Regions from separate parts of the Homo sapiens genome. Here region 1 is linked to region 2. Evidence: fine-mapped expression QTL. Tissue or cell type: whole blood. Region 2 holds a variant in brackets; the other region holds the start of a gene. All regions are shown on one strand. Distances are between the middles of the regions.

Evidence for each region. PIP is the estimated chance that this variant, and not a neighbour inherited with it, causes the effect.
Region 1: AMPH starts here. The variant in region 2 is fine-mapped to the expression of AMPH in whole blood (TOPMed, PIP above 0.99).

What each region holds. Positions count from the first base shown.
Region 1 is chr7:38,629,947-38,632,570 of GRCh38, reverse strand. AMPH (amphiphysin) reads left to right here and starts at 1,198. Exons shown (of 21, transcript NM_001635.4): 1 at 1,198-1,288. The coding sequence starts at 1,220.
Region 2 is chr7:38,393,440-38,395,939 of GRCh38, reverse strand. AMPH (amphiphysin) reads left to right here. Exons shown (of 21, transcript NM_001635.4): 18 at 1,726-1,935. Among named protein-coding and RNA genes, the nearest start is that of TRG-AS1, 53 kb to the right of the region's middle. RefSeq lists enhancers at 702-871, 793-962, 1,235-1,404, 1,912-1,961. The variant C/G (reference allele first, on the strand shown) is at 1,176.

The DNA.
Region 1 (2,624 bases), 240 kb before region 2:
CCCCAGAGGTACAGTAGGATGCTCACCTGGACTCATAGGATTCACTGTGAGTGACCACTTCTGACCTCTGTTTGCAGGGCACCACCTGACTTCTTCTCCTCACACTCTCAGTGAGAATGGAATATGAATAGTTTGACCACTGGTCAGAGCCAACAAGAGCTCTAGGTGTAGGGCAGGTTTATCCCTATTATTCGTACTTCTCCCAAGCATTAATAAGAATAATAGGGATGGTGAGTCCCTGTTAAGGTTGCCAAAAGGTTTCCAAGGAAGCAACAAGTTAGGGGGGACTGGGTCTTCCATGGTTGATGCGAAGCTATAAGGGACTTGACTGTTCCATGCACCATTTCTTGAAGAGTAGTCTATTCTAAGGTTTCTGCCCAGCACAGGAATTTTGGAGATGACCAAAACACATCGCCTGTCTTCCGGAAGCTGACCTTTCTCAACGCGGACCTCCCCGCCCTGCTAACTCTTGTTTTAAAGTTTAAACAAGTGTCAGCGATGGTCTCTCCCCGCTTTGCTCTCCACACGCCTCTCTCCTGCAGCTCTGACTTCGTTGGTTTCCCAGCCAGGGCCCCTCACTGGGCTGTGAGCCTCCTGAGGGTAGGGCGACCTCCATACCTTCTTCTGCAACACCCAGGGTGTATGGAGGGGCCTCTGTTAGCTGGAAACTTTTGGGAGCAGCAAGGGACCAGCCCCATCAGCTCCACTTCAGAGCAGTTCCAATCCAGCTGGCTTCCACATCCCTAGGGTTCTTCCCTTTTTTGTCTCCCCTATTTCTTTTTTTGCTGGAAAGAATCAGGTCCCCTCACTCTCCCCAAATACAAACTGCATTAAAAGAACCCCCGAGCTGCCCCTGGGCCCAGGGACTTCTGCTAGGCTTGGTTCCCTTTCTCCTCTCGAAACTCTTCTATCATCGAGGAGACAATCTGGCTTCTGGCTTTTCCCTCTCTTTTTCTTGGCCTCTTTCTCTTTCTTCCCCCGCCCCTTCTCCCCATGTCACAGCCAGTCCCGACGCATCCCGCCCCCGCTCTGTCGCTTTAAGCTGGTCCCGCCGCCGCGCCCCGCCCTCACCCCTCCGCGCTCCGCGGCTCCCCGCCGCTTCTCCCGCTCCTCCCTTGCTCGGCCCTCTCCTCCTCCTCCCGCTCCTCCTCCCGCTCCTCCGCGCCGCCGCCAGCCCCGCTGCGCGCTCTGCTCTTCGCAGCTCCCCGGACCCGCAGCCATGGCCGACATCAAGACGGGCATCTTCGCCAAGAACGTCCAGAAGCGACTCAACCGCGCGCAGGAAAAGGTCAGCGGCGGGCGGCCGGGGCTGGGGCCGGGGACGCCAGGCGGGGGCTTGGCCGGAGGGCACCGGCTGCAGCTGTGCGGGGCCCGAGCCTCGGGGTGCGGCGCGCTGCGGAGCGGGGCCGGGGCCAGGGACGCTGGGACGCCCTGCCCTCAGCTCGGTGACTGCCGCAAGGCGCGACCCGGGCGCCGCGGGGAGCGGGTCGGGAGGACGCAGCGCCGGGGACCCGCAGACCCTGGCCCCGGAGACGCCGGATATGTCCAGCTCCGGAGCCGGCCCCGGGTTGCCGCTCTCCTGGCCCCAAGCCAGGCAACAGAAGTAGGAGGTGCGGCAGCTTGCCCGCTGCGCCCGGAGCAGAGCGCATCTCCCTGCGCTCGCATCTCCCCGGGCCGGCTCCCAGCGCGCCCGCAGGCAGCTCGCGGGGACGCGGCCCGCAGATCGGGGCGGGAGATTGCAGCAGCCTTCCTTCTTGCGGGGGATTTTGTGGCTACTTAAGTGCAGCAGACACGAACGATTTAACAGAGAAGCCACCAAAAATCTCCCAGGACCAATAGGGTAGGATCGTGATCACACAGTGCTGTCTGGTGAGTTCTGGAGTTCAAAACAGAGATCTAGATATACACACTTTTAATTTTGGTCTATATGTTTGTGTCCCTTTTGACTCCAGTGTCCTTCTTTAGAAGGTCAAAAATAAATATGACCTGAACCTAATAGTTCCTTTCTGCATATTTCTGCACAAAGAAGGACCTTTTATTGCATTTTAAAAAATCCAGATTGCACAAATTGGGTTCTCTGTTGTTTTGCAAGTCCCTCAGTAAATTGCGCACAGTAATTTATTTTTTTTCCCCAGAGACGTGCATGAATGAAACCCAGGTCCGTAGCAAGCACAGCCCAAAGCAGGTGGAGGGGAGTTGTACCAGGCACCAGGCTTGCCTGGCTTCCCTGGTGACTGCTGTATATGACGGCCCTGAGGTCTTCATTTGTGTCCTGAGCAAAGGACATTTCCTTTATATTGTAGCTTGAGCATTGTACTTGAAAATCAACACCGGCTAATGAGCCCCATGATTGGTATCACTTGAACTGTGTTCTCTTTCACGTGGCAGTATTTTCCGTCCCTAGGATATGGGGTGTTTAGCGTTTTCCTGTTTTACTGGAAGTCAGATTTGCCATGTTGCTCAGGATGGCAATGAATTTCCCTCTTCAGACCCAATCTCAATCTCAGGCTGCCTCCCAGTTCCGGCTGACCATGAGTTGCTGAGCAGAGGGGGCACTGATCCCTTTTGTCCCCAGGCCCAGAGGCTTGGTGGCTGCCTCTAGTCCCTCCCTCCACACATGCACA
Region 2 (2,500 bases):
ATATATTCTGTAACAGGCATTTTTATTTAAACTATTACCTGTACCTTTGAGCCAGCAGAAACGTTTTTAAAACTGCTTTGTTATAAGTGTAGATGTGTGGTTCATGTTCTTCATCTCCGATTTCTGATGCTCACTCGGAGGTACTCTTCATTGTCCTTTTCTGTTTTCTGAGTTTGAAAGTTAATATTTGCAATATTAGGGCCTTCCTAACTTAAGATGTTGAACTGGATAGAATGTATTCAACAAAGAAAAAATAGTTAATCCTAATCCCATCAGATAGTAAGAGCCATTTTTGAAATATGTGTCCCGGATATATTATATAAGATCAACCTGAGATTCTTCTAACATAGTCTTTCTCACGTGAACCTCTCAAATCAAGTCTGCCAAGCTGATGTTGTCAGAATCCTGTTTAAAGAGTTGGACTCCAACCCATTTGTTCAAAACTAAAATTTCTGATTGCATTTCCTTTATTTCATTATCTCAAATTTTAAATAGTACTTAAAACTCTTCTTCTGTGTTTCTACCTTAGAAAGAAAATTCTGACTTTTTTCTATTTCACTTCTCCTTACTGGACCTAAACTATGATTTTGGCATTTTGCCTATAACAGGCTCTACAGCTATTTGGAGCATTACCATGCATATTTGATTACAAAAATGATTTCCCCTTCATTCTCGAGGGTTTTCATTGAGAAAGCTTCCTTATGTATTTTTTTTTCCTGTGAAAGTGATTTGGCTTCTGGAACCTTCCTCACAAAGATTTGAAAGTTTATACTAAAATGCACTCTTTCTAAATTTTGACTTTGTGTGATGAGGATGCTTTTCTGATATGGCTTTTCTCTCTGACCCAGGCCACTTCCATCCTGTGACCCAGATGTGCCATGTAAATCAAAAAGTGACCAAGGCACGTCTTAGTCATGGAGAGGCTTATTTAGCCAAGGTTAAGGATGCACCCAGGAAAAAGAGACACGAGTCAAAGGAGGATCTGTGACGTGTGCTTTTTCTGAAGAGAGTTTTGAGAACTTCAGTATTTAAAGGGGAAATAGCAAGCAAGAAGGAAATAATTTTTTTAAAAAGAGGGTGGTTAGGCAATGAGGCAAGTGTCACATTCTTGTGAGGCTCTGATTAGCGCTCAGTGAATCTACATTTTACATGTGAAAAGAGGGAGTGGGGACAAA[C/G]TCACTCATGCCTTCATCTCATGCTCTGTAGTTCTGCATGTTACATAAGATGAAGGAAGTGTGTGAAATTACAGCCCTGTGTTTGGGAACAAAAGGAAGGTGGTTTTCGTGTGACTCCGTTCCCAAGCTTAGCTTTCCTTTGGCATGGTAAGTTTAAGGTCCCGAGATTCAATTTTATTTCTTTCACTCCCCTAAGGCCTCATTTGTTGCTTCCAGCCAATAAAAATGGAAATAGCTTGTGGAGAGGACCACCTACACCTTAAAAGCCATGTCTTTGGAATGGTGTATGTCACTTCCATTCTAATCCCATTTGCTACACCTGACAGCAGGGAAAGCTGAGGAGTGTAGAATTGTTGGGAGCTCAGCAGAAGAGAAGTCGGAGTGTTGATGAATAGATGGCAGATTCTGCTGTACCTAAATCCTGGGAGTGCAAAGAATGTTCCAAATCTGAATAGCCTCCACAGAGGGGAGATTAGAAATAGGCTTGAGTTTGACTCCTGGCAGAGGCCCATGGAGATGCAGACGTGGCCTGCTGGTTTCTGCCCTGCAGATCATACCTGGAGCTGATGCTGATGCAGCTGTTGGAACCTTGGTGTCAGCAGCTGAGGGGGCCCCAGGAGAGGAAGCAGAGGCGGAGAAGGCCACTGTCCCTGCCGGGGAAGGAGTAAGTTTAGAGGAGGCCAAAATTGGAACTGAAACCACTGAGGGTGCAGAGAGTGCCCAACCTGAAGCAGAGGAGCTCGAAGCAACAGTGCCTCAGGTGAGTGTCCCATGTCGCAGCCAGGGGAGCTCCTGGGAAGTAGCATGGGCTGGGTGCTCTGTTGGTTGGTTCATGGTGATAACTCTTTGGATGTATAATAGGTTTGTAGCAATTTTGTGACTCCACCAAACAACATTATTATCAGATTCTCAGAAAGACTAATCCCAGCTGCTCAGTATCAGCATTGCAATGTTGCATATAGGCCCTCAGGGCCTGTGGCTGACTGGGCCTAAGCATGGAAACGGGAATGGGAAACTGGGGTGACGTGGAGAAAGGAATGAAGCAGGACAGTGAAAAGGATGAGAATGGAGCCGGGAGAAAGAGAATGTGATGAAGTGAGCACTCAGCCCAGGGAGAACTCAATAGTATTTAGATCTTATTATTCTTATTACTGTTTGGTGGTTATTATTATCATTAGAGTGCCCCAAATTCACCATCAGGCCCCTTTTACCAAGAGCCCACCACTGGGTGGCACTTTGAGAAGGGAAACAAAGGGACCAGGGCCATTAGGTCCGTGCATGAGGCGGGAGGGGGCCCTGCTCGGCACTGCCTCAGAGCAGCATTG